4 linked regions of the Homo sapiens genome follow. The protein of the gene in region 3 interacts with the protein of the main gene of each other region in a pairwise test. Each region holds a gene or a part of one and is shown on either strand. Other genes may lie near its edges.

Region 1 (8,428 bases), on a different chromosome or scaffold from region 3:
CTAGGTAGACATTTACATTAGTTCAGGGGCTTTTGGTAACCTAAACCAGAAATCTTGAACTCAAATGCCCACTGTGGCCATGCAGGAAACGTGAGCCAAGTGAGTGGAGTATCTGTATATAACACATGAGATTGTCTTTGTTCCCACAAAAAGATATACTTGGTCTTTCTTTTCCTGAAACACATGTCATCTCAGCCTCTTTTGTTTTCCTGCTTTTAATAAGATGTAGAAAACAGTTGTGAAAGCACAATGATAAGTAGCATCTGACCCTCGGCCTGTGCTGGGGAGGCTGTCAGGGAGTGGCAGGGACTGTGGTGAATTAGAGAGCACATGTTCTTTCAATGGCGGGGTCACAGTTCGATGGCTACGTAGAAATGCTGATCTGATTTCCCAAAAGAAAGCAAAAATCAGGATTCTTATGGCAAATCTCCCCATTTTTGACAGGCAAATAATTCCAAGCTTTTAAAAAGCACCGTGTGAGTCATTCTCTCATACCACTGGTGGGTGTCTAAATCAGTATAATCTCTAAGGATAGAAATTTGACATTAGCTACTAAAATTGTAAGAACAATACTCTTTAACTTGACACTCCCACTTCTGGTATTCTTCCTGCATATACACTTGCTGTGTGCAAAATGATGTGTTCAAGAAAATTTATTGCAGCATTGTTTGCAATAGTGAAAAAACTGAACTCATCTAAATGTCTATCTAGGGGGTCTTGGTTAAATAGGTTATATTCGTAAAGGAATATCATGCAGCTGTAAAAATGAGTGCTTTTTTTTTAGATATGACAATAGCACAAGTGACAAAAGACAAAACAGATAACTGGACTTCATCAAAATTAAAAACTTTTGTGGAACAGAGGATGTTATCAAGAAAGTGAAAAGACGATCTGAGAAATGGAAGTAAATATCTGTAAATCATGGGAAGTAAATATCTGTAAATCATCTAATAAGGTAATATCTGTATCTGTAAATCATCTGATAAGGGACTTTTGTTTAGAATATATAAAGAACTCTGACAGCTCAACAATAAAAAGGCAAATAATCCAATTAAAAATGGACAGAGGGCTGATGCGGTGGCTCATGCCTGTAATCCCAGCACTTTGGGAGGCTGACGTAGGCCGATCACTTGAGCTCAGGAGTTCAAGACTAGCCTGGCCAACACAGTGAGACCCTGTCTCTGCTAAAAATACAAAAATTAGCTGAGTGCAATGATGTGTGCCTGTAGTCCTAGCTACTTGAGAGGCTGAGGCAGGAGAATCACTTGAGCTTGGGAGGCGGAGGCTGCAGTGAGCTGAGATCCTACCACCGCACTCTAGCCTGGGCTGGAGTGAAACCCTGTCTCAAAAAGAAAAAAAAAAAAGGTCAAAGGATTTGAATAGATATTGAACAGACATTTCCCCAAAGGAGACAAATGGCCAATAAACCGTGAAAACATCCTTAGTCATTAGGGAAATGCAAATCAAAACTACAATGACGTATCACTTCACACCCACTAGGATGGCTATAATTAAAAAATAATAATAATAATAAGGCTGGGTACTGTGGCTCATGCCTGTAATCCCAGCACTTTGGGAGGCTGAGGCAGGTGGATCACTTGAGGTCAGGAGTTCGAAACCAGCCTGACCATCTCTAATAAAAATATAAAAATTAGCTGGACATGGTGGTGGGGACCTGTAATCCCAACTACTCGGGAAGCTGAGGGAGAAGAATTGCTTGAACCTGGGGTGCAGATGTTGCAGTGAGCCGAGATCGTGCCAGTGCACTCCAGCCTGGGCGATAGAGTGAGACTCAGTATCAGAAAAAGAAAAGAGGTGTTGGTGAGGATGTGGAGAAATCGGAACTCTTAAATATTGCTGGTGAATTTGTAAAATGGTGCAACTGCTGGAGAAAACAGCTTGGCACTTTCTCAAGAAGTTAATAGTTTACCATGTGACCCAGCAATCCCACTCCCAAGAGAAAGGAAAACATGTCCACAAAAAAACTTGTAAACAAATGTTCTCAGAAGCATTATCATAATAGCCAAAAAGTTGAAACAACCCAAATGTTCATAAACTGATGGATAAACAAAATATGGTATATCTAAACAATGCAATATATTTGGCCATAAAAATTAGTGCTAATATGACAACATGAACTTTATGCTAAGTGAAATAAGCCAAACACAAAAGACTACACAGTGTGTGATTCCATTAGTATAGAGCATCCACAATACGCAAGTCCATAGAGACAGAAAGTAGTTCAGTGGTTGCAAGGGCTCTGGTGAAAGAGGAATGAGGAGTGACCGTTAATGGGTATAAACCAAAAATAAAATTAGAAGGCCCTTTGCAACCATCTGAATGGACTCCCTCCTTGGCCAGCACACCCTAAAATTTAACCTGAAAGACTGGTTCAGGCCACGATGGGAGGTGAGAGTTGGACATGCCTTATTATACCCCTCCAACATTAACATCAACACTGACCTTAAGTCTGATAAGAAATATTTGTCTATTCTCTCTATAGCCTGCTACTGGGAGGCTTCAACTGCATAATAAAACCTAGGTCTCCTGGCCAGGTGCAGTGGCTCACGCCTGTAATCCCAGCACTTTGGGAGGCCGGGAGCAGGGGGGCGTGGATGACTTGAGGTCAGGAGTTCGAGACCAGCCAGGCCAACAGGGTGAAACCCCATCTCTACTAAAATACAAAAAAAAAAAAAAAAAAAAAAAAAAAGCCGGGCTTGATGGCTCATGCCTGTGATCCCAGCTATTCGGGAGGCTGAGGCAGGAGACCAGGAGGGGGAGGTTGCAGTGAGCCGAGATCGCACCACTGCACTCCAGCCTGGGCAACAGAGTGAGACTCACTCTTCAAATAAAATAAAATAAAATAAAATAAAATAAAATAAAATAAAATAAAATAAACAACCAAAAAACCCTAGGTCTCCACAACCCCTTATCATAACCCAGATATTCCTTTCTATAGATAATAACTCTTGTAACCAACTGCCAATCAGGATATGTTTAAATCTACCTGTGACTTGGAAGCCCCTCCCCTTTGAGTTGTCCCGCCCTTCCAGAATAGACATTGAACAGACATTTCCCCAAAGGAGACAAATGGCCAATAAGCACATCAAATCAATGTCAATCTTGCATGTATTGACTTATGTATTATGTCTTCCTGAAATGTATAAAGGCTGACTATGCCCCGACCATCTTGGGCACATGTTGTAGGACCTCCTGAGGCTGTCACCACCATGTCCTTAACATTGGCAAAATAAACTTTCTAAATTGACTTGAGACTTGTCTCAGATACTTGGTTCACATAGGTTTCTTTTAGGGGCGATGAAAATGTTCCATAAACCACTCTACCTAAAATTAGGTAGTGATGATGGCTGCTCAACTGTGAATATACCAAAAAACACTGAATTGTACACTATAAAAGGATGAGTTTTATGGTATGTTATTAAAAGTTGTTTAAAAGTGAGGGACCCCTCCAGTTATTGATATGGAATGATCTTCAGGAAAAGAGCATAATATGCTACATTTTTGTACACCAAAGGGGAGGTAGGTACGAATATGCATACATATTGCTTTTTTCTAGAAGCCGCCTAGGAGTGAAACCAAAATTCTTCACTTCTTTTCGGCCCTACCTCGAGCTCCCTTTAGAAAACCTTTCCTTCCAGCTCACAGTATCCACCATGTCCACCTTCGCCTCCCGGCACTGAGCCTTAGAGGGGCGGTGCTCCATAAACATTTGCTACATGAATGAACGAATAAACTATCGGATTTTGGGGTGGGTCGGGACAGCTCGGTTCCAGCGAGGGCTCCGCCCACCCGCGGGCTCCGCAGAGGAGCAGAGGTTGGGCGGCCGCCTCGGTTAACTCCGCTGCAGCCCAAAGCACGGGAATCGCGGGACAGACAAACGAGCGGAGGGAAGATACCTAGAAGCCAGGAAACCGCGAGCTGCAGTCCAACTTGGCCGGAAGCTGCGGAGAGGCTCAGCCACCGGAAGTCAGTGGAGGGTTCGGCCGGACGCTCTAGAATCCCGGAGGACCGGGATCTCTGTGGTTGGCCGTGACGGGCACCCTCTACCGGGGATGACACATTCCCAGAGCTCCTGGGACCAAGCAAATGGCGGACACAATTCCCTGGGCGGAAGGGGACTTCGGGAGCCAGTAGCCAAGGTAACAGTCCCAGACCTGGGCATCTCAGGCCGGGCAGTTCCCCGAGCTCACGGGACTAGCTGTGATTGGCCGGATGAGGTTGAGAGCTTCATGGGGACGCGCGCGCTACGTGCAGGGGCGTTGCCTTCCATTCACTTGGCGCCCGACTGCCAGTGCGCATGCGTTTGAAGGCGGTGCAGGGCGGGGAGCACACCCCTGCGAAGTGCCGGGCACCCTTTGGGCGGCTCCCGCCGGCGAGCTGGACAGCGGCGCGCGCCAGGCGTGGCTTTCTCGGCCGGTGGGCTAGGATTGGACGCAGTAGGTAGAAGGGGCAGGACCCTCCGCAGCAGTAGCTCAGCGATTGGCCAGGAGCTGGAGGGAGCGTGGCCTTGGGAGGCGGGGCGGAGGGGGACGGACAGGGCAGCTCAAGACGCTGAGGTGGTGGCTGCGGCCTTTGAACAAGTAAGTGAGCCACCCTCGGAGACCCCCGCGCTGGGGACGGGAGGCCGGCGAGCCTCGGGACCTCTGAAAGCCTTGAGGAGGCGCGGGGGTGAGTGCGGCCCTGAGGAAACCCAGGTGCCCCGCCCCTCCCTTTCTTCCTGGCCCGCGCCTCGCCTACCCCTCCCCCGACCCTGGCGGGCCCCCGGCTCTGGGCCCGGACCCCTGGGGTAGCTAGTCTGCCACGAACCAGCCGCGCGCTTCTGCCCTTGTCGGTTTAGGAAACTGGGAAGTTCCCTGGTCCTGCTCCCCAGCCCGCAGAGGGGACACTGAGGCCCACGGTAGGTGGTCCTCTCCTCACCCGAGTCTCCACACAGACACCATGGCCGAGCCTCTGAAGGAGGAAGACGGCGAGGACGGCTCTGCGGAGCCCCCCGGGCCCGTGAAGGCCGAACCCGCCCACACCGCTGCCTCTGTAGCGGCCAAGAACCTGGCCCTGCTTAAAGCCCGCTCCTTCGATGTGACCTTTGACGTGGGCGACGAGTACGAGATCATCGAGACCATAGGCAACGGGGCCTATGGAGTGGTGTCCTCCGCCCGCCGCCGCCTCACCGGTGAGCTTCCTGAGCCGTCGCCTCCCAGATGTGGCAGCGTCGCAGGGAGTGGGAAACCGGCCTGTCCCAGACAGCCGGGAAGGAAAGCGGGGTGCGAGTTCTGGCTCCAGTCAACACACACTGACCAGGGCCTTCTGCCTGCCAGGCTCCGGGGAGGCTCGGTTCTCTGAAACTCCGGCCTGGTGGTTTTGCCATCCTGCCTGCCTACTTCCTCCTTAGGAAAATGATAGTCCCAGTTAGACCAGAATGGAGAGCCAGTCCTTCGTGTCTAAGAGAGAAATGTGTTCTGGAGCCAGACACTGGCATAAGGAACTGGTGGTGGGATGGGTGAGGTCTGAGATGGAGAGGGTGTAGGCATAAGAGGCTGAGCTACACCACTGGGCATCCGTGCAACCTCCAACAAGTTACTAAGCCATATTTCCTTCTCTTTAACGTTGACCTATTGGGACCTGCCCCGCAGGGGAGTTGTGAAGGTAACATTTAATAATGTAGGTAACATGCTTAGCACAGGGCTTGGCACATAGTAGGTACCCAATACTTGGTAGCTGTTGTCATTTGCATCCTAGAAGGGAGGTGTTGATAGGGGCTGAGTCGACTCTGCAGTTTCTCCAAGGTATCCTCTGGTATGTCCCTTTTCCCTGCTCCTCAGGCCAGCAGGTGGCCATCAAGAAGATCCCTAATGCTTTCGATGTGGTGACCAATGCCAAGCGGACCCTCAGGGAGCTGAAGATCCTCAAGCACTTTAAACACGACAACATCATCGCCATCAAGGACATCCTGAGGCCCACCGTGCCCTATGGCGAATTCAAATCTGTGTAAGAAGCGGGATGGGAGAGGGAGCCAGACTTGGGACTTTTCTGAAGGCTGCAACCATGTTGCCGAAGTTCTGGAAAGGCAGCTGAATCTAATCTGAAGCAGGCTGGGAAAATTCCCGCAGTTCTAGGACCAGTTCTTTAGAGTTTTGCCAGGGACAACTGTTATTCCTCAAGAAGTGTACAGATGATTTTACAGTTTTATAGAATCTTAGTATATAGGATGTCAAATGTAGGACATTCCTACTATGACCACACCCTCCTATTCCCATAGCAGACTTCACTAATCAATCACAGAACACTTTCCTACAGACAGTGGACAAGCCTGGTCAATTTTCATCATAGTTCTTCAAGCTGCCACTACCAAACAATGGAGATAGCCCCAAAAGGAAACCTATTGGCCAGCCCTGGTGTAGTCCAACCCCATCTTTTATCTGATGGGGAAACTAGGTCTGGAGACAAAAGTGATTTAACCAAGTTCATGGAAAAGTCGTAGAGAATCTAAAACGTGATGCTCTTCTTCCATACCATGCCGTCAGCCCCTATGGGGTCCCAGGGTAAGGCTGTTACCTGTCTGGAATCGGAAGGGTGTGGTGAGGATGGGGCTTGTCCCTGGAGTGTGATCAGGCCAACCCATGCTTCTCTCCTTCCTTCCCCTTCCAGCTACGTGGTCCTGGACCTGATGGAAAGCGACCTGCACCAGATCATCCACTCCTCACAGCCCCTCACACTGGAACACGTGCGCTACTTCCTGTACCAACTGCTGCGGGGCCTGAAGTACATGCACTCGGCTCAGGTCATCCACCGTGACCTGAAGCCCTCCAACCTATTGGTGAATGAGAACTGTGAGCTCAAGATTGGTGACTTTGGTATGGCTCGTGGCCTGTGCACCTCGCCCGCTGAACATCAGTACTTCATGACTGAGTATGTGGCCACGCGCTGGTACCGTGCGCCCGAGCTCATGCTCTCTTTGCATGAGTATACACAGGCTATTGACCTCTGGTCTGTGGGCTGCATCTTTGGTGAGATGCTGGCCCGGCGCCAGCTCTTCCCAGGCAAAAACTATGTACACCAGCTACAGCTCATCATGATGGTGCTGGGTACCCCATCACCAGCCGTGATTCAGGCTGTGGGGGCTGAGAGGGTGCGGGCCTATATCCAGAGCTTGCCACCACGCCAGCCTGTGCCCTGGGAGACAGTGTACCCAGGTGCCGACCGCCAGGCCCTATCACTGCTGGGTCGCATGCTGCGTTTTGAGCCCAGCGCTCGCATCTCAGCAGCTGCTGCCCTTCGCCACCCTTTCCTGGCCAAGTACCATGATCCTGATGATGAGCCTGACTGTGCCCCGCCCTTTGACTTTGCCTTTGACCGCGAAGCCCTCACTCGGGAGCGCATTAAGGAGGCCATTGTGGCTGAAATTGAGGACTTCCATGCAAGGCGTGAGGGCATCCGCCAACAGATCCGCTTCCAGCCTTCTCTACAGCCTGTGGCTAGTGAGCCTGGCTGTCCAGATGTTGAAATGCCCAGTCCCTGGGCTCCCAGTGGGGACTGTGCCATGGAGTCTCCACCACCAGCCCCGCCACCATGCCCCGGCCCTGCACCTGACACCATTGATCTGACCCTGCAGCCACCTCCACCAGTCAGTGAGCCTGCCCCACCAAAGAAAGATGGTGCCATCTCAGACAATACTAAGGCTGCCCTTAAAGCTGCCCTGCTCAAGTCTTTGAGGAGCCGGCTCAGAGGTGCCTTGTGGGCAGGTCGGGTGGGCAGAGGGGAGACTTGGACTTGGACAAGGCTTCAGGCTTTTACCTTCTCCCCTGCCCAACTTCCCCGCAGATGGCCCCAGCGCACCCCTGGAGGCTCCTGAGCCTCGGAAGCCGGTGACAGCCCAGGAGCGCCAGCGGGAGCGGGAGGAGAAGCGGCGGAGGCGGCAAGAACGAGCCAAGGAGCGGGAGAAACGGCGGCAGGAGCGGGAGCGAAAGGAACGGGGGGCTGGGGCCTCTGGGGGCCCCTCCACTGACCCCTTGGCTGGACTAGTGCTCAGTGACAATGACAGAAGCCTGTTGGAACGCTGGACTCGAATGGCCCGGCCCGCAGCCCCAGCCCTCACCTCTGTGCCGGCCCCTGCCCCAGCGCCAACGCCAACCCCAACCCCAGTCCAACCTACCAGTCCTCCTCCTGGCCCTGTAGCCCAGCCCACTGGCCCGCAACCACAATCTGCGGGCTCTACCTCTGGCCCTGTACCCCAGCCTGCCTGCCCACCCCCTGGCCCTGCACCCCACCCCACTGGCCCTCCTGGGCCCATCCCTGTCCCCGCGCCACCCCAGATTGCCACCTCCACCAGCCTCCTGGCTGCCCAGTCACTTGTGCCACCCCCTGGGCTGCCTGGCTCCAGCACCCCAGGAGTTTTGCCTTACTTCCCACC
Region 2 (5,530 bases), on a different chromosome or scaffold from region 3:
AAGGTTATGAAGAAAACCCAGACTTTCCTGCCTACACTGGGTGCGGTGGCTCAAGCCTATAATCCCAGCACTTTGGGAGGCCGAGGTGGGTGGATTGCCTGAGCTCAGGAGTTCAAGACCAGCCTGAGCAATACGGTAAAACCCCGTCTCTACTAAAATACAAAAAATTAGCCAGGCATGGTAGTGGTGTGCACCTGTAGTCCCAGCTACTTGGGAGGCTGAGGCAGGAGAATTGCTTGAACTGGGAGGCAGAGGTTGCAGTGAGCTGAGATCACACCACTGCACTCCAACCTGGGCAACAGAGTGAGACTCTGTCTCCAAAAACAAACAAATAAAAAAAGCCTTTCCTGCCTAAAGTCCACGTTCCTTCCAGTACCCGCACTGTTTGTCTAGAAGCCAGTTTCTAGCACGAGACCCGGGAACAGCTCAGCACGATGTCCGGTCACAGCACTTGACACTTGAGCTAGGCGGTGGGAGCAGAGGTCGGATGTCCGAGATCTGCTGGGGCTGAACTGAACACCTGTTGAATCATGCTTGTCTAGTAACAGCAAAGTCACCAGAATGCAGAGAATGAGCATCCATCACTTTGCAGGTTCGGAGGACCCGGCATGTGACGGGCAGCAGTACTCTTCCTGCTCTGCAAAAGAGCCCCTACATGTGGCATTTAAGGGCTTTCTGCCCCCTCCTCTGCCCAGGCTTGCTATCACGTCTCCTGGGTCTCCTGGGATCTAGTCTAGAACATTCCAGGGGGCACTGCCCACCTTCCCTAAAAGCTGTGGGATCTTATGCTGAAGCCTCTGCCTGCTAATTGACTCCGGCTTTTCCTTCTATCCCTCATGAGAACCATGGGCCAGGGCTGAGGCTGAACACATGGAATTGGGCACGGGTCCCCATCGAGAGCTCCAGAAAGCCCAGGCTGCATCTTGCTCAGCCTGGCTGGACGCAGAAGGTGTGTTTGTTCTTAAGATATCCTAATACATAACAAGCAATGTGCTCTTCACAGAAACAGCTGCAGTGAAAAAAAAAAAAGATCACACAGCACTAGAGCCCATCTTGGGAGGTGACCTCAGGTCTCACACCTCAGTATCTCCAGATCCCCAATGCTAAATGTACCCCATCAGGGCGTTTGAGACTTTCCATCAAGGAGAATTTAGCTATATAAATTTAACATTATAGATTTAACTACACAAAACAGAGAAGTCAGCTGTTTGTCTAAGCTTTCAATGACAGATATTTTAATTGTGGAATTTTTAAAGCAAACAAAGCAATGGAAACTTCATTTTTATTCTAGACCAGTCTATCCCAGACATGCTGATTATGGTTGGCTGTGCTGAGTCCTCATTTACCGTATGAAATGCAAATGTCTGTCAATTGCAATGCCTGGGGCCAAGCCAGGCCAGTGGACTTGTGTGCAGTTCCCACCGGAGCCAGGAGCTGCTCAGACAGCAGACCCAGCCCAGTCCACTGGGTTTTGCAAACACAGGCTCCCTCTGCAGCAGCATGGGCTTGTGGAAGGGAGGCATGCCGCCGCCAGCATGCATGCCAGGGGTCCGGGGTTCTCCCCGTGTCTGCAGAGGTGAGGGGTACAAAGTGAGCTGGAAACAAAACACTGTGTTCCCCCTTGGCCTTGAAGAAGTGCCTCAACCAACTCCTCGCCAGCTGCAGAGTACTCAATCTCCTCACAGAAAGAATGTGTACAAAAAAACTAGAAGCTTTTCTTTTTCCCAAATGGCTGTTGAATTTATTTGCTTGATCAATAATGGTCCTGGCAAAAATTAGTTAACCAATGCTGAGACATTTGTAATGAAATACTAATTTTAAAAATCCATGACACCTTGATAGAAATTAGAGTTTACACAAACAAAAAAGGAACCTTCGATATTGCCAGCAGCTATAAAGTGAACGTACTGAGACCGACAGGACAGCAAGAAGGCATTTGCACATTTATATCTGACACCCGACCATACTTTCAGTCACCAGAATATCTTCTCTCCAGATTTAAAAAAATAGTATGCTGATTTCTATAACAAAGCTTTTTTTCGTACAAAAATCAAATAATGGCCAACGAGTCACAACAGTGCAATAGGTAGAGGATTAAAAACTGCATCAAACAGGTGCTGAAAATAAATACTACCTAGGAGAAGGAGGTGAGAGCCCTCGTGTGGGGTTTGTTTTCGACCCCTTGAGTGTGTGTGGGGTTTGTCTTCCGAGCCACGAGCCTGGCCTGTCTCGCGGTGCTGTTCACTCTGACAGAGTGCGCCTGCAGCACGTTGCCTCCAGGGCCCAGCCTCCCAGAAGCCTCAGAGCATCAGAGCATCCGTCTCATCGGATGGACCAGAAACAAGAAAATGGGGTGGGGTGAATCACAGCTATCATTCAAAGGAAAGGAATTTTTTTCTATTGCTCAATCTTGTCAATTGGGAGTCCACCAGTAGGTTCACTGAGATGATATGGATAATTTCAAACTTTTGTTTAAGAGCATATATATGGCTTATTCAGGCAAGGAGACGTGTACATTCTAGCCCAAGCAAGCAATCGGAGTCATTCTGTTTTTAAGGAAGGTCAGTCGTTTAAAAGATTTCTGGTTTGAACAACATCCTCTGTGGATGCACCAGGCCAAGGTGACTACCTTTGACCAACCCAGTGAGAAGGCCTTTGCTGGTCCCCGCAGTGAGGAACTGGCAGGAACGGGCAGCCTCCTCCCCGCTGGACTGCACTGCCGGGGGCCGGTGGGCAGGCTCCACAGGCAGCCCCTGTCTGTGGCCAGACAGGCCGTCCTGGTGACTCGGGCTTATAGACTGTGGTTTAGAACTGCAGAAGGAGAGAGGAGAGTGGGCCAGGGAACACCCACCAGGCGCTGCTCTGACCAGTCAGAGAACGTGAGGCAGCTCCCCCATAGGGATCTGCACCGAGAAGGTGTGGAAGGCACAAGCAAGAGTGACGGTACCAGAGATCCCAGAGGGCGTGGCTCGCGGCGGCCACAGCAGGCGCAGCGCTGACCTGGGGTGGTTCCCCCCTTGAATGAGAAAGAGATCCTGATTCTGCTGTGATAAAAAAGCAAAGAAAGACGGTTTTTGGTTTAAAAAGAAGCCACTCAAGGGTTAAAATAGTTATTTTAAGTTAACAAAGAAAATTAATCTTCAAATAAGCTGACACTATCTGGAAAACTCATCTGTCCCTAAAGCCCACAATGCGTCCACTGCTTCGTCCTCCCATGGAACCTGAGCCTGACGTGAAGGAGTCAGACGTGTGACAGAGGAAGAGTCTGAGAAGAGAAGACACCTTTACAGAATGTACAGCGAGAGAGCCGGCCTGGCCCCCGGGTTACAGTAAGATGCACGGGTCCTTTCAGTCTCACGGACTCCAGACGGCCACGCAGGCTGCTCAGATGGACGTCTCCTTCCTATCCCTGCTGGGCGATGGCTTTGCCGGCTCCTTGCCTGCCTTTGGCTGCTCTTTAGCTGCTTTTGGCTCAAGGACGCCGTCTCTGGGCGGCTGGACGGCACCCCCGCGCCACTCAGGCTCCTCGTCCTCCTGCGCCTGCTGCTCGGCCTTGGCTCGCTGCATCTGGAGCAGCCGCAGCTGCACGCGCAGCTCGATGATGGCCTCGCGCTCCTCATGAATTGCTTGATTCAAATGATTGTTCTTTATCTTGGGGAATGACAGAAAGGGCAGTTATCACTTAAGGAAGTCAGAGGACGATTTCTCAGGAGCAGAGCGCGGTTAGCAAGGGCATCCTACAGAGGAATCTGGTTTTGTTTAAGTCAATGGGTTGTGAAACAGAAGACAAACACAGCAGGAATGCACAGTGCACAGTGAGCCACGTGACTCCTGAGAATGTGAGGCTGGAAACCCTGCTCCTGGTTACTAGAGAGAAACACATCCATGTGCCAACAGAAACCGTTATTTTAATAATTCAGTATCCTAGTGTTTAAAATAGACAACTTATAACTTTGAACTGGCTTCTCAACAGCCCTTAAACAAGGAGAAAATAAAAGTAATTTTAGCAGCAATTAGAAAGGGGAGTTAGAGATCAGATAAAAAACTAGATTTGTTTCAAAGGTGAATATCCTTTGTCTTTTGTGAATAGTATTACGGTAATTCTGAAATGTCCTACTCAATCAAACTACAGAAAATTACTATCAATTCTAAATCATCTGGATGTACTCGGCAAAGTTTAGGTCCTGAGGAATAGCAGCGGCCCTGCTGCCGTGGCCTCCACTCTGTGGCAGGTGCCAGCCTCCCCTGCGTGGGTGTGGCATGGACTAGGCTCTGCGAAGGGGGCATAGGTGTAAGCGCAAGCACCGAGTGCCACGCATGCACCCTGCCCTTGGCGACTGGGCATGCCTTGATCCCTTCCCTGCTAACTTAGTCCTGCTAAGAGTGGCAAGACAGAGCAGCCACATTGGACCCTACATGGAAAAAAGTGGTGTGGAGGATGATGGGCTGGACCGCCTGCCACACAAGAGACACCATCTTGTTTAAACCACTATGTTATTCTCTTTATTACAGCAATTCAGCCTACACCCCAAGTACAATACTTCTGGATTCTGTTTTCCTACTCAGAGTTTTAATACGATCTTAAAATGTTAAGAAAAGAACATCAGGTGCCAATGTGAGGCCTTTCTGAACAGGAGCTCCAGCAACCCTGGTCTCAGCACCTGCAGGGCTTCCTCCCACAGCACATTCCTGCCGCAGCAAGGGTCTCTGCCTTGAACCTTCGTGGTTGCCTCTGAGCTCTGCCCGCAGGCTCGGCAGAGAGGACTCTGTGCAGGGTGGCTGTGTGTGGAATTCTGCTTTTCTATGCAGGGTGTAGTTCTGGTTCGCACCAGCCACTGAGCGAACCCAAATGAGGGATGCAGAGCTGTCCCTCTATCCTTAGATTCCTTTCTGTGAAGAGGGTATCTTCTCTCACTCAATCCTTAGGCAAAATATCTGGACACAATATTTTATTTGGGGTAAGAAGGGAAACTGTGATCTAGACCTTTATCTCTGCTGCCTTCTCTTCACTGTGCAGCCTCTCCTAGTTTCTTAGCGCCGATTCCCTCTCACCTGCTGCTTCTCGGGCTGAGGCCAAGAGAAACTCCGTCTCTTGCTTCACCCACAGGGAGACTCGGGAGACTGTTCTTCCATCACTAGCGCTGATTTTTCTGTTCACCTTCTCTGGGAACAGAGACTAGGTCATTCAAAGCTGCTCAAGCTGACACAGTCAGGTGAGGCTTGCCTTTACATCGGGTGGAGAAAGGTCTACATGTCACACTAAAGTCACAGAACTCCAGTTCACAGCCTGAGGAAGACACACAGGTGCCATCTGCTTGGCCAGCACTTAGCTCAAGTCCCACAGACTCTCGGTGAGATGTCCCCCTAAATTCCTCTCTACTCAGCCTCCCAGCTGGTGACCAAGAAAAAGAAGGACAATTCTGAGGGGAAATATGTGGTCTCTACAACTTTCTAAAAGTTAGTATGCATTTTGGCTATTTCCCCCCAAAACTCACTTCCAGCTCTTCGTTCTGTCTCTGTAAGTCTTCCA
Region 3 (7,720 bases):
CATGTAGCCACAGTTTGTTCATTCTCATTACTGTTATTATTCCACTGCACAAACGCAACAGGATTTGTATTATAGTCAGACATTTGGGTTGTTTCATTTTCCTCTTTGCTACTGGAGCCTGGGATTTCTCTTTACTTTCTTTGAGTTCTGCTGTGTATTGAATAGGATTAAAGCAGCATTTCCTGGTCAGCAATTCTAGATGTTCTGTGTCAGGCAAAGTTTTAGATGTTACTGGCTGCCAAAGCTCCAGACACATAAATCATATGTGTTTTGTTTTTTTTTTTTTCGAGACTGAATTTCACATTTGTTGCCCAGGCTGGAGTGCAGTGACGTGTTCTCGGCTCACTGCAACCTCCACCTCCTGGGTTCAAGCAATTGTCCTGCCTCAGCCTCCCGAGTAGCTGGGATTACAGGCATGTGCCACCATGCCCAGCTAATTTTGTATTTTTAGTAGAGATGGGGTTTCACCATGTTGGTCAGGCTGGTCTCAAACTCCTGACCTCAGGTGATCCGCCTGCTTCAGCCTCCCAAATTGCTGGGATTACAGGCATGAGCCACTGCCCCCAGCCTGATATTCTTACTTCTCAAATGATTTACTTTAGCTGATGACTTATTTCTTTAGACTGTCATCTGTATTAATGGCTTTGGTTCCTGTGAAGCAATAATGAGTGAATAAAAACAGGAGCATAGGGATGAGATATGTAATTAATCTTGTAGTCATGATCTCTTGACAAGTTGAGATGTTGCATGTGCAAGGCTAGTTTAATGTTAAAAAGTGTAAAATATTGAAAAAACATGTTGTAGAAATAGAGTGGCTGGGCCGGGCATGGTGGCTCATGCCTGTAATCCCCCTACTTTGGGAGGCTGAGGTGGGTGGATCACCTGAGGTCAGGAGTTTCAGACAAGCCTGGCCAACATGGTGAAACCTGGTCTCTACTGAAAATACAAAAAACTAGCTGGGTGTGGTGGCTGGTGCCTGTAGTCCCAGCTACTCGGGAGGCTGAGGCAGGAGAATCGCTTGAACCCAGGAGGTGGAGGTTGCAGTGAGCAGAGATTGTGCCATTGCACTCCAGCCTGGGTGATAGAGCGAAATTTGGTCTTCAAAAAGAAAAAAGAAAAAAAAAAAAAAGAAATAGAGTGGCTAAAGACAGCAATAGTATAAAGTGTGGATATGGTTGTTTGGGCCCAGGATCTCTTGTCTAATTGACACTGAGAAGATAAAATGAGAAGGAAATTCTGTTGGTGACTCAGTGGTATCTAATCAGTGTGTAACCACTCCAAAATGGGGCTGTCTTTTGTTTTACTAGTTCAGTGGTTCCAAACTGGAGGTAATTTTGCTGCCCAGGGGATATTTGGCAATGTCTGAAGACATTTTTTGGCTGGCATACTACTGGAATCTACTAGGTAAAGGCTAGGGAGGCTGCTAAACATCCTACAATGCACAGGACAGCTCCCTACAACAAAAAATTACCCAGTCTCAAATGTCAGTGTTCAGAAATGCCTTGCTAGACCTAGACAAAGCTTCTAAATTAAAGGTGTAATTAGATAAAGAAACTATCAACTACTTTTCAAGAAATGATAGCCCTAGGCTGGGCACAGTGGCTCTCGCCGGTCATCCCAACACTTTGGGAATCCAAGGCAGGAGGATCACTTGAGGCCAGGAGTTCAAAGCCAGGAATTCAAGACGAGACTGGTCAACATAGAGAGACCTAGCCTCTTAAAAAAAAAAAAGAAGGAGGAGAAATGATAGGGCTACATGGACACATTCTTCTATATTTCTATCCAACTTCTGACACTGTGACATCCCGCTCATACTTGGCTCACCCTAATTTTTTTCAAAACTGTAATGGTGGGTCCTGCAACAACTAAATCCATTTAGAATTTGAATAAAATTACTCAGATCTGACATTAATGTAACTGGATATGTACAGCAATTTGTTTATATATATTAAAAATTAACAAAATTGCTCTATGATTTATGCCATTATTATTTTATTTTATTGTTGTAAACACTAAAGTTCCAAGGCCATAGAGTAAGTGATTTGCAAAAATGGCACTAGACAAATAAAAATCTTGATGTTGCGCCTTGCAGTTAGACTACAAGGTATTCTTTTCCTTTGTTCATGTGTTTTTGCAGCTTAAATTGAGGGCAAAGCTAAATTTCATTATTTCTCCAAAGGAGGTGATTACCTAAATCTGTCCCTTCTTCCTCCAGGCAGCACATACTACCATTTGTTCTTGTGATTCATTTCCCCTAGAAAGCTGAGAAGGAATTTTATAATGATATTATTGGTTTTGTAACTGGTGTTTCCATTGTAATGCTATTACGGAACCAGTGTTGTGATAAATGATCTGTTTATAAGGGAAATCACTTTTACAAGAAGTAGAAAATTAGACACGCTTCTGCTTTGCAATAACAATAAAAACCGCGGTGAAAAAATATTCTCCAGTTTATTCCCATCTGTATCAGCAGGGAAGCTTTAGAAGATGGCTTTCTCCCTAAAGTCTTCTAACCACGATTACTACCTACAAGTCCCATGTCAAAATGCAAATTTCCTCCAAATTCCACTGAAGGCCACTACATTCTTAAGCTTAACCATGACTTGGGCCCTTTAAGAAAACCAGGCGCTTCAAACTCCACCCCTCTGCTGACTTGAAGCAGTGTGAGTCCGCCTTTCCAAGGCGGTTAGTTTTGTGGTGACGCTAAGAGAGAGTTAATTTGCCCCCTGCTCTGCCTGGAAGGAATGTTCCTGTTGCAATAAGCTCTAAAAGTGGAAGCTTTAAGATAATATGGAATAGGGAGCAATAGAAACTTGTGAGGTATGGCAGCCAGACCTACTCTTAAGATTCGATCACAGTGCTGAATAAAGGGGAAAGAATGTTGTTAAATCTGTTTCCCCCTGTGGTGCTTCTCCCTGCTAGCTTTACTCTTCCATTTCAACCCTCAAGTGAGCTTTCCAGAATCCGTTTCCAATTTAACTCATTGTCTCATGTACTAGATCCCAAAAAAGTGAGAGAACTAAGTTTCAGTGCAAATTAAACTGGATCACTTGTAACAGAATGATTTAGATTGCCTATATGTTTCTCAAGAGCAAAGCCAAGCATTTCCTCCCTCCTGCTATACAAACAGTGACAGAGTTCAGAAGCCCTCCAGCACTAAGCTAAAAAATACCTGGGAGAAACTGGGGTTTAGTTGCTGTTGGCATTTAAGCTGTTTGCTAAAAGCAGCCATCTTGGTGAAAGATGATGTCATTTGGAACACTTGGTGTTTTCGAGTTTATTCTGAGGTGCCAGTTTCCAAGAGCCATTGAATCACCGTTTAATCATGAGATCAAATTTAGGTTTAAAGATAATGAGGGAGTGGGAATAAGAATCATTCTTCTTTCTTCCTAACACTTTAGAAATCTTTCAGAAAGTTCAACCCAACAGAAAAAAAAATTACACTTTTTTTTCTATTTTCTATTACCATGTGTTTGTTGTAATGTTAACTAAGCGTGGGTAATAAAACTAGTCTGGTCAGTTTCACTTTCCAATTTTTATACATAAGTGAAAGCTGTTTTGTGTCAACAGGGCAAAGTGTTTAGAATCATCTCACCTGCTGGGCCAATTTCCTGCAAGCCTTTCTTTGGGAAGAGGAAGGGGGAATAAAAGTTTTTGATTTTTAATTTCTTAAACTGCAAAGCTAGAACCATGAATTAGACCGCATTACAGTAATTACTGTTTTATTTTTACATGCTAAAGTTTTCTAGGAGTGAGCAAGAGGATAGCAAAGACGGGTGATGTTGCACTCCCACTCAATCATTACTATTTGTATAGCATAATGTTATGTCCGCAGTTACTTTGGAAAATTGGCACTTAAAGAGGTGTTTCAATCTTCTACTAAAAGTGTTTCGCCTTCCTTTTTTTTTTTCTTCATTAGGTAAATGTTACTGTCTTAATCCTACTACGAGACATGTGCTGGAAATGTTTGCAAAATGCAAAGAGAAAAAGAAAAAAACAGTTGCACCTTGTTTAAACAATTGAGCGCAGTGTGGTTTATGAGGTTATTAAAGGAGATGTGTGTCTCTCCTGCAAATTCTTACTTAACAAGGTTAACCTGTGGCTGCTGTTGTTTCATCCTCCTCGGCCTCTTGTAGAGGAACTTTGTTCTCTTAGGTTTATCCAAGCCTTCCTAGTCAAAAACACCTTGCTTTTGAGAATATAAAACTGCGTGTATGTGTGAAACAGATAGAGGGAGACACGCGCACACACAGTCGGCGGAAGATGGGGCCACAACACGGTAGAGGATGGGTGCCGGAGCCCGGCTGACCTTTCCACGTGTCCCCGGCACCTGCGAGGCTGGTGGGGCATCAGGTTTCCTTTTTCTCGGGGCGGGCGCGAGCCCGGAAGAGGCTGGGCGGCCGTGGGCTTAGATCAGGGGGCTCGGAGGCCCTCCCTTGGAACACGTGTGGCTGGCGAGCTGGTGGTGCGGGGGCAGTCCTTGGCTTTCCCGCACCCGCAGTGCCTGCGCGTTCCCAGCCCGCCCGTGGTCACCAGACGGCGGCGGGCGGGTCCCGGAGCTTTCAGCCAGCTTTGCTGGGCGGCCTAGGGAGCGCGCCCAGCCCGGCTGGAGCGAGCCCCAGTGCAATACTGCCCAAGCCCGGGCGGGGTCTCTGTTCTCTGGCAGAGGAGGTCCCTTGGCAGCGGGAAGCGCCCTCTCTTTCTCTCGCCGCCGCTCCGAGTCTGCGCCCTGGTGCCAGGCGCTCAGCTCGGCGCTCCCCTGTGCTCGCCCGGCGCCCACTCATTCGCAGCCCGGCCTTCGTCGCCGCCGCCTCCCTGCTGCTCCTCCTCCTTTCCCCAGCCCGCCGCGGCCATGGCGGACAGCGCCAGCGAGAGCGACACGGACGGGGCGGGGGGCAACAGCAGCAGCTCGGCCGCCATGCAGTCGTCCTGCTCGTCGACCTCGGGCGGCGGCGGTGGCGGCGGGGGAGGCGGCGGCGGTGGGAAGTCGGGGGGCATTGTCATCTCGCCGTTCCGCCTGGAGGAGCTCACCAACCGCCTGGCCTCGCTGCAGCAAGAGAACAAGGTGCTGAAGATAGAGCTGGAGACCTACAAACTGAAGTGCAAGGCACTGCAGGAGGAGAACCGCGACCTGCGCAAAGCCAGCGTGACCATCGTGAGTGCCCCCCGGGGACGCGCCGCAGCGCCGACCTCCGCCCGCCCCGGGAGGGGCTGCACCCGAATCCAGCCACCCCCCAAGTCTTCCCCAGATTCCCGGGGACCCTCTGAGAGCACACTCCCTGCGGGGACCTGCTGGCTTCCGGGAGGAGAGGGAGGTATCCCTTCGGGGCCACGCGGGTCTGTCCTCCTCGGGGGTCTGAGGACCCTTGCGCGGTGCGGGGGAAGGCTACTGTGGCAACCATTCATGGTCCCTTTTAGCCTCTGGAGAGGAGGCCCCTCCGGGGCTGGGCTGGAGGCTGGCGGCGTGGCTGGGGGGCGGGGTAGGACTTTTTTCAGCCCTAGCATGTTTGAGGGGTGCGTCCAGAATCTGGGGAACCCCAGTCCTGGAAGAGGGAGGAAGCTGGGATCTCTTACTGGGTCCTGGCTCGGAGTGTGGGGGTTCGCAGCTGGACTGGGCACTAAGCTGGCATCTGGACTGCGCTAGCTGGATCGCCCGGGGAGGGGGCGGGAGAGAGTGGCCGGGAATCCGGGAAGTGGAGTTTTCTGGCCGGGATCGAGAGGGAAGGGCGGGTACGGCGCTAATGCTCCCACCTCTGTTGGAAGCTCTTTGCTTTGGGTTGGGAGGGTGGACGGTTTACAGCGAGGAGAGTGCAGCATCCACGCCTGGACAGGGCTGGGGCCGAAACCAGGGGAAGGGTAGTGACTGTGACTCCCTGGCTGAGCCAGAGGTACGTGTGTTTGCTTCATTCGTGGAGTGGTTAGAAGTATCTTGCTTCTGAGTCTAGATACTGGAGAACAGGCCATCTGTTCTGTTTCTACCTGTCCCCTGGAGGCTGCCCAGAAACGGGTAAGCTTGGGTCTGTAGGTCTCTCTCCTGGTGTGGCAGGCGTTTAGAAAGGCCCCTATAGCAGTGATGAGGCGAAACGTAACTAGAAAAAGTACACTGTGTACTCTCACCTATCATCCCTGCCAGCTCACCACATCATTAACATGAAGGATCCCCACACAGACAACTGTATTCAAATCAAAAGTTCCCCAGCCAGAAGCAGAGAAGATGATGTCAAGAAATCAAGGGGGATAAATGGCCATAGCTGCTGCAAAATAGCGGATTAGGCTGAACTTTGAAATGAAGAAAAAGGGATGAATTTGGGGATAGAGGGTCACACCTTGGAAATGGAGCAAGTTTAGGATGCCCCTTGTGCCAGGAAATGCCTTCGGTGGAGGAGGCTGTGTATATGTGTGCGCACGCGTGTGTACACCCCCAGTGCTGGCTCATACATGAGAACTAGATGGCATTCTTAATTTGTGTAGAAAGCAAGTTGCAAGTTAAGTGTGATCAGTAGCCTAAATAGCAGTTGATTGTAAAAAGAAACTTTTCATGCTCAAATCCAATTTTGGAGAATGGAATTGGAGCAACTTTCATGTGAGATGGTAAAGTTCTTGAAGTGCCCTTTTGGTAGGAAGGTGGGGGGCGGGGAATTTGCAGAGGCAGCCACTTCCAAGCCTCCTATGCAGCTTTCTTCGCTGACAGAGATGTCTTTGCTGAGTGGGGGTTAAGAAGAGAGGGAAGTTGTTGGAGGCAGTTTAAGGTTTGAGTTAGTAAATGAGAGGGTTAGTCTCTTGGAGACTGTGAGCCATGGAAAGTAGTAAGACTTGCATGAAGCAAAATAGCCTTTTGCATGCAGTGGGCAATTCAGGCTGGTTTTGTTTGGGAGGGAGGAATGAGGGATGCAGAGACTATGAAAGGGTTATCTGTTTGACACTTAGACCGTATTATAACTAGGTTTGTAAATTGTGCTTAAACATGTTGGCTTTGCAGGAACAAATGTGTTCATTCCCGGTGTTTAAGATCAGAGGCCTTCTGAGTACTTGGCTAGAAGAGCGTATAAGGTGGTGGCTTGCTTTCTTAGCACTTACCCTTAACTACACTGACATCCAACCGAATATACTTTGTGAAATGTCGTGTGGTGTTAATGAGTAAAGTTAACATTGTTTTAGATGACACTGCACAAGTACCAGAAGCCTCTCAGTTCTTCTTTAATTTCTGACTAATATATTCAGGGAGACACATAAAAAAGTGCTTGTGGTTCGCCTGGTTTCCTAATACTTGGCAGTTGTTACTAAGGAGCTGAATGATAAATGCAGAAAACAGATTCCTTCAAGATTTTGCAGGTTTTGTTAACTGACCTAGGATCCAGATTCTGTGGTGGTACGTTTGACCTCTCAGGTATGTAATGCGGGAGGAGAAATTTATGTGACTCCATGAAATGGGCCTGTGAATGTAGAGTCCATTGAACAACACTTAAGTAGTTTATGTCAAGGTTAAGCTGTACAATCCCTGACATCGCTGACTTAAGCATTACCCTTGCTAGTGGCAGGCTAGGAAGTTTCTGATAATTAAGTGAAGGCCTTGTTAGATTTTTCACTATTTTAGTTAATTTGAAGGGAAGATGGTACCATAATTCTGGTAATTGCCTTCCTGGCTCTTTTTAGTTCTAATTATGATATTAACGTTCATGTCCTTGGGCACTAAAGGTGATTGTGGCCTTCTTTTTCCTTG
Region 4 (7,644 bases), on a different chromosome or scaffold from region 3:
GAGGATTTTCTTACTTTCTTCTTATCTCACTTCAGGAAGTGGAGAGACACCTACAGTGGACACCATTGACTCATATATGAACAGACTGCACAGTATTATTTTAGCTAATCCCCAAGACAATGAAAACTTCATAGCTACAGTTCGAGAAGTTGTGAACAGACTCGATCGTTAGGGAATGGTGAGTGCTCACTGATAAATATTTATATGCCAGCACATCATCAAAAATAAGATGTCATCAGACTTTATCAATACTACTAAAACCCTGGGATTACATTGGATGAACAAGTTGGAGACTTGGTTAAGATTCCTGTTGCATGGTTGTTAAATGTAGTAAATAATATTAGAAAAGAGAATCACTGTAGTCCCAGCTACTTGGGAGGCTGAGGTGGGAGGATTGCTTGAGCCCAGCAGTTCAAGTCCAGAGAGATCCTGTCTCTAAAAATAAAAGAAAACAGACTCAAGACAGTTTTTTCTTATGCTTGCTTCAGAATGGTTTAATGGGAAAAGCATGGTTTTTGTGGCTTGACCTCATTTCTAGCTTTGTCACTTATTAGCTGTATTCTTGGGCATTAGTTTCCCAAAAGGTTTTGAAAAGTGAGTGGGAAACTTAGAAGAAATCATCCCCAAAACAGCACTCAGAACAAAATAAATATAACTTAATTTTTAATCTTCCTTTTCTCTGGAAAATACTAATGATAATTTAGAAGTAGTCAGTGAGACATTGTATGTATGTGAGCCTACATAAGTAGGAAGCTTTTATATTCACCACTCAATAACACAGTGACTGTTGTCTGTTAAATGTTGATGTGGACTCACCATACAAACAGGTAACTCCCTGGTTTTGATAGATTAAAAAATAAACTCTTCAGCCAGGTGCAATGGCTCACACCTGTAAGCCTAGCAGTTTGGGAGGTCAAGGCAGGCAGATCGCTGGAGTCCAGGTTCAAGACCAGTCTGGGCAACATGACAAAACCCCGTATCTACAAAAAATACAAAAAATTAGCCAGGCATGGTGGTATGCGCTTGTGGTCCCAGCTGCTTGGGAGGCTAAAGTGGGAGGATCACTTGGGCTTAGAAGGTCAAGGCGAGGCTGCAGTGAGCCATTATCAGACCACTGCATGCCAGCCTGGGTGACAGAGCAAGACACTGTCTCAAAAATTTTTTTAAATAAAAAATAAATAAACTCTTGGTGGGGCACAGTGGCTCACACCTGTAGTCCTAGCACTTTGGGAGGTTGAGGCAGTATTGCCTGAGCCCAGGAGTTCAAGACCAGCTTGGGCAAAATAGTGAGACCCCTGCTTTAAAAAAAAATGAAAAAAATTAGCTGAGCATGATGGCGCACACCTATAGTCCTAGCTACTCAGGAGGCTGAGGCAGGAGGATCACTTAATCCCAGGAGTTCAGGTTTCAGTAAGCTAGGGTCACACTAGTGTATTCTAGCCAGGGTAACAGAGCAAGATTCTGTCTCAAAAAAAAAAAAAACAAAATAAAAATATAAAATTCTCAATAAGCAAAAAAGAGAGAGAAAATAAGTTTTTAAAAAATATGTTCAACAAATGAGCAGTAGTATGTATCCTTTTTTTTTTTTTTTTCCAGAAGAGATCTACCCATGACACTTTTTGGTACTAATGGTCATTTCTCAAATGGAATTGGTATTTATTCATTCAAATTCCTAGAGATAGGATACCCCTTTACTATGCCATCCCACAAAACTGGCATCCCTTTGCTCTATTGGTTAAGTTATTCCATACCTGCAGACATATAAACTGTGTGGAAATTTTAAGATTAGACTCTACAATGAGGTGGCCATATATGGATACTAAAATAAGAGTCAACAGCAGGATATGTTCCTTAGAATGGTCATGGGTTTGAATCTTTATTTGTCCTGTGAGTACATGAGCACACTCATATACATAATTTATATTCTGGTTTGGTTTGGACTTTGAGCAACATATATAAAGATAAATGCCTAGTAAAGACAAAGGCAGAAGTCTTTATACTTCTTGGTGATGCCCTTGGATGGTAACTGTACAAGGCAATGCATTATATTTTAGCCTCAGCCATGCTCTGATGGGGAAAGGATTACTATCCTTCTAGGGAGTAGCCAGATGGAATGGACTGTACTTCTTAGAGATGGCTGGACTCCCTGCAGAATAAAGAAGTGGCATTACTGCTGCTGCTTATGAAGGGAACAGCTTGTAAATCTAGGCCTGGGATATTCAGGAGCTCATCATCCTTCCCATTTTCGTACAGTGTTTTCAATTAGCACTCTTGTAGGCTTGAAAAGTGAGAGCTGGGAGAAACAGTGTGGAAGATTGTGAAAGAAAACATTAATTGATAACATCGTGTCTCTTCACATAGATACAGGGCAGCTAATTAAGTATTGACCCAAAAGTGGTTTTCCATTTTGAGCATTTTGCCAGTAAGACTCTCCTAAAGCTTTTTTCATCTCAAGAGTATAAACTATATTATTTGTTTTCTGATGAGTCTTTGAAAACTTAGAATATTACTATTATCCTTGATTTTAACCTACAAATATTTTGCCCCTGAAAAAATAGCTAAAAGTGTGAACTGTTATATTACTACAGATTCTTACAGTCTAGCCATGCAAACATAACTAACAATAGATGGTTCCCCACACCCCCAAAACTGTCAAAGGAAACAATTACAAAGACTGTGATTAATACTGGTTTGGCCTCATTATACAAATATGTACAGACAGCGAGGCTGATGTCCCCAGCACTCATGATGCAATTAATTACTCTGACAAGAGTTTGGCAAAGTTTTCATCCACTGTCAGGAGCCAGTGAGTGAAGGGAAGCTAATGGTCTACAAGTTTCAGAGGAGCATATTAGGGACCTTTAGAAATCTAACATTTTATATATGAAGAAACTGAATCCCAGAGAGGAGAAACATCTTGCTTGAAAATATCTGCGTAGATGAGTACAGAATCCAAGACTAGAACCACAGATATCTAAACTCTCTCATTCACTGGGTTTCTAAAACATTGCTCTAAGGAAGAGGTGGATGGGGGAAGGGGAAAGCACTAAAAAATCCTGAAATAGAGCATTAAGATACATAGGAAGTAAACAGATAAAAATTGTAATCCAGGAATTATAATGTTATAGAATTTTAGCTCATTTTAAAATTATTTTGATAAATATACAGTGGAAGAATTACCCTACCTGTCTGTCACCTTTCTTGTAGCTGAGTAGTACCTAGAGACAAGTGGAGCTAGGAGGAGGCCATGAGGGTGATTTTAAGTTGAAAGGTGACTACCTTATATAAACTATTAAAATGCATATGTTGCCTGATTTCAATGATAATATTTGGCTGTTTGAGTTTAGGGAAAAAAAATCTTATGTGACTGTATTTTTATTAATATGAGAAATGTTCTTGATTATATGCACATAATACATCTCTATACATGCAGATATCCTTAGTTAACACTTGAAGAAAATTGGTTTTGATTGACCATACATTCTTCAGACTAAAGTAGGGTACTCATTTTCCCTCCTCAGGTTTGTCCCTGATAGTTGCTTTTCTGTGTTTAGCTGATGATTTTCCTACCTCCCATTGTTGCTGAACTGGAACAGGGCCATGTTTCTCATTGAAATGTTATGTAAAACATCTCAATGAGGTTGCCTGCTTACAGCTTTATGAGTTCTTCAGTTTACATACACCCTGCACTCACTTTAACGCTTATGAAACCAAAGCATTTTTAAAATCCATAGCGCTAACCCCTTCCATTCAATACTTACTTTCTTGGTGTTATTTTCCTTGTTTGTTTTTGTTTTTGTTTTGTTTTGTTTTCCTGATTCTACAGGTCTTAGAACTCCAAGATGTTCCATAAGTGTTTTTACTTGTGAGGAATGAGAAGCCATCCATGGAAATTTGAACTGAGTGGGGGCAGAGAAAGAGTGCAGATCCCTTTGCTTGTGAAAGAATTATCAGTGAGTGAAAGGCCATCACCCCAGGAAGCCAAATGAGGGAGCAGCAACATGTATATGAGCTTCCTATGGAATTGTCCTTATGTGAAGCTTTGAAGGTGTACAGCCACTCTCCCGGGTCTTCAGGTTCCTACCATTTCCATTTCTGTTAAAGTGGATCTGCATATCTTCAGCTTACTAGGTGACCCGGATGCTGACATCTGCTGCTGCAGAAAGGAAGACTTTTCATTGTAATTTCGCTTAGACCCTTTTATCAGTGGAGCTCCAGTTTTCTTACCTAGCTGTCACTTTTTTAAATGCCTCTGGGGGTTATTTTTGCTTTCCTTGGCCCCCACCAATTTATACATCTCCATTTTCTGACCTCTGGACTAACTGGTTGCTCAGCAAGGTTCTGAAGGAGAGTTTCTTGCATTGGACAGGCCCAGTCTTCTCCCATCATTGCCCTGCTGTGACTCCAAAGAAAGGAGCTTCTTGCTGACAGTGCCCTGTGGAGCAAGGCTGTGTTTCCTACCCCACACGGTGCTCAGTGGGTGCCAGCCCTCAGTGTGGCTTTGTGATTGCTGCCCTAAAGGAGAATGCTCTTTCCTTCCTCACTGGTACTGCCTGCTGTTTTCTAAGCATTGCTCCTGCACAGACATGGAGTCCCAGCCCCAGCAAGGCTCTTCTGTTCCCATCTGTTGACAATGTCTTGTGGAGCATTTTTGCTGAGGAAAAGGTCACTTGTAAACAGAGGAGAAAGGGAAAGAGTACAAAGCCCTAAGTTTATTGTAAGTGAAAACTGAGGGAATTCCTGTCTTCTTTAGGAGTAATGATTCATAGATCTAGATAGGTGGAAATATCATTCAAAATAGTCACTTGAGCTCACAAAAAAAGCAAGGAAGAATTCTCATGTCCTTTGTCTTCCTTCTGTAGCCATTAACTGCTGAATCCATGTGAGGAAGACAGGCTTCCCTTCCTTCCCCCTCCTTAGTGATTTTTTCTTTAACAGCATAAGTAAAGAGGACTTTCTGGTTCATTTTTGTTTGTTTTGTTTTGTTTTGTTTTGTTTACAGATGAGGTCTTCCTGTGTTGCCCAGGCTGGAGTGCGGTGGCTATTCACAGATGCTATCATAGCACACTACAGCCTACAACTCTTGGGCTCAAGCATCACGCCTAGCAGTTTCTGGTTCCTTTAACAGCAAAAGGAAAGAGAGGTTCTGATTCTTACCTCAGGGTTTTTTGGTTGTTCATTGTTTTTGTTTTTGTTTTTGTTTTGACACTGCAGAGCACAAGGCTAAAGGTTACAGCTGAGATCTTTGGAACCAAAGGCAGAGCAAGCAGAGCCCGTTGTCTGGGCCCCACACCACTGCAGGCAGGTGGATAGAAGTGCGGCCCCTCTCATAGTATGCCCATAAGTCAGGGCATAGGGCAGAACTACCTGTCATGTTGCTACACCATCCTGTCTTCTCAGCATCTCCTTGCCTGTTTTCTTTATTAGTCCAAAGGAAAACAACAGCAACAAAATCTGTTTTTAAAATGTCTTATATGAACATATATCAAATATCCATGCGCTGAAACCCACATACCATCACTTGGCAATTTTTTAGAATAAGACCCCATTATTATCTATTGCTATAAACCTAGCCAGTTCTCTTGCTCTTCTGTATTTTCCTATTTCCCTGCCATCATCTGCTATTTCTGCCACTTCTCTTAGACTCCTTGTCTGCAAAGCCCAAGCTAGAACTCACTGTCTATGGCAGAAGGACATCCAGAGCCCATTCTGGAGTTTTGTTTTTTCCTTCTGCCAGATGCTTTGTGTCCTGTCTTCCTTCCTCCTCATATTTCTGTTTCTCATTTGTGTTCAGTTTTGTGCAGCATTGCTAGCACTGCTTTTGTGACCAGAAAAGGCCATAACATGGTCCAGGATCATCATTCTTCTGACTCTAGATGGGACACTTGACAGTGACTTGAAACATTTGCATATTCAGGAATGCATGAGATTTCAAGAGAGCCTACAGTATGAAATCATTTTCACAAAATAAGCAGCTTGCTTCTGAAATGCTGTCTTTCCCAGTAGCTACTCACCTGCCTCTGGTGGCTGGGATTCAGATGCCACAAAACTGTCAGTATCTATAGACCAGGTCTGTGCCACCTCCTCTCTCCTCTGTGCTCAGTGAGGAGGCAGTAAATGAAGTTACAGGCTAGCACAATACCTAACTCATGTTTCCCAGTACACCTGTAGATATTACTGTACTTTTATGTTCTCAAGAAATAAGTTGTTGCCTATTCAGTGTTACAGATTTCTTTGTTTCTTTTTAATTAAAATACAAGAAGCAGCTGAGGAAAGGGAGACAAGGTATTTTATTTCTGACTGATTTTAGAAAAAACTTGTGTACATGTGTTTGGAACTGTTGAAATGCCAAGTTTTCTGTATAAGTGTTTTTGTAATTAAACTTTCAGATTTTCTTTGTTTTTTAAGAAGTTGATGTGCTTGTTTGACATTTGTCTCATTAAAACTTTTCTACGTTGAATTCACCTGTTTCAATTTTACTTGCTTTGTAACAAAAAGTCCTACCTCTGGCCGGGCACGGTGGCTCATGCCTGTAATCCCAACACTTTGGAAGGCCAAGGCAGGCAGATCACGAGGTCAAGAAATCGAGACCATCCTGGCCAACCTGGTGAAACCCCGTCTCTACTAAAAATACAAAAATTAGCCGGGCATGGTGGCATGAGCCTGTAGTCCCAGCTACTCAGGAGGCTTAGGCAGGAGAATCACTTGAACTTGGGAGGTGGAGGTTGCAGTGAGCCGAGATCGTGCCACTGCACTCCAGCCTGGCAACAGAGCGAGACTCCGTCTCAAAAAAATAAAAAATAAATAAAAAAGTTCTATTTCTGTTTTTTCCTCTTAAAGACTTTGTCAACTCTACATTAATCATGACATCTGTTATGCTTTTAAAACAGTAACACATTCATTTTACTAATTGCTACTTCAAAATGTATCTTTACCGGTTTGAGAAGTCAGCTCTTTTAATGTATGCTGTAACAATACAGTGAATTCTAATTCATTTTAATATAGCAGTAGTATTCTGAAGACAACTTACAAGGATGTTTTTAAAGTCAGTGACTCTGATGTCCCCTTGATAGAAGATCATTTGATAGAAGAAAGGAGATGTGCTTAAATGCTTGCTTTTTTTTTTTTTTTTTTGAGATGGAGTTTTGCTCTTGTTGCCCAGCCTGGAGTGCAGTGGCACGATCTCCGCTCACTGCAAACTCCGCCTTCCAGTTTCAAGCGATTCTCCTGCCTCAGCCTCCCGAGTAGCTGGGATTACAGGTGCACGCCACCATGCCCAGCTAATTTTTGTATTTTTAGTAGAGACAGGGTTTCACCATGTTGGCCAGGCTGGTCTTGAACTCCTGACCTTGTGATCCACCAGCCTCGGCCTCCCAAAGTGCTGGGATTACAGGCATGAGCCACCACGCCCAGCCAAATGCTTGCTTTTTGAAAATAACTAATCAAAATATTTTTAAAGGAAATTTGTCACCTATTTCTACTATGCTTTTAAAAATCCTAGGGGTGAGGCAACCTGGTTTCCAGAGCCTGCTGCTCTCCAAGTAGCCATTTGTGTGGCATTGGGCAAGTCTTGATTTGTTTCAACTCCAGTTTCCTCTTCTGACATAACACGTGCCTCAGCAATCCTGTACTATTGTAAGAAGG

The links.
Region 1: the proteins of CCDC6 (region 3) and MAPK7 interact in binary tests that used the Homo sapiens proteins (3 or more experiments, as listed by UniProt).
Region 2: the proteins of CCDC6 (region 3) and RALBP1 interact in binary tests that used the Homo sapiens proteins (3 or more experiments, as listed by UniProt).
Region 4: the proteins of CCDC6 (region 3) and HMG20A interact in binary tests that used the Homo sapiens proteins (3 or more experiments, as listed by UniProt).

The regions. Positions count from the first base shown.
Region 1 is NC_000017.11:19,373,942-19,382,369, forward strand, and holds the start of MAPK7 (mitogen-activated protein kinase 7), read left to right. Parts: upstream 1-4,556; 5' UTR 4,557-4,689; exon of another isoform or gene 4,690-4,954; 5' UTR 4,955-4,959; coding exon 4,960-5,191; intron 5,192-5,840; coding exon 5,841-6,006; intron 6,007-6,542; coding exon of another isoform or gene 6,543-6,560; intron 6,561-6,666; coding exon 6,667-7,745; intron 7,746-7,839; coding exon 7,840-8,428. UniProt on the Homo sapiens protein: Plays a role in various cellular processes such as proliferation, differentiation and cell survival. The upstream activator of MAPK7 is the MAPK kinase MAP2K5.
Region 2 is NC_000018.10:9,533,792-9,539,321, reverse strand, and holds the end of RALBP1 (ralA-binding protein 1), read right to left. Parts: coding exon 5,496-5,530; intron 3,652-5,495; coding exon 3,385-3,651; 3' UTR 1,208-3,384; downstream 1-1,207. UniProt on the Homo sapiens protein: Multifunctional protein that functions as a downstream effector of RALA and RALB. As a GTPase-activating protein/GAP can inactivate CDC42 and RAC1 by stimulating their GTPase activity.
Region 3 is NC_000010.11:59,903,557-59,911,276, reverse strand, and holds the start of CCDC6 (coiled-coil domain-containing protein 6), read left to right. Parts: upstream 1-4,720; 5' UTR 4,721-4,852; coding exon 4,853-5,155; intron 5,156-7,720.
Region 4 is NC_000015.10:77,479,144-77,486,787, forward strand, and holds the end of HMG20A (high mobility group protein 20A), read left to right. Parts: intron 1-35; coding exon 36-172; 3' UTR 173-178; exon of another isoform or gene 179-3,826; 3' UTR 3,827-6,460; downstream 6,461-7,644. UniProt on the Homo sapiens protein: Plays a role in neuronal differentiation as chromatin-associated protein. Acts as inhibitor of HMG20B. Overcomes the repressive effects of the neuronal silencer REST and induces the activation of neuronal-specific genes.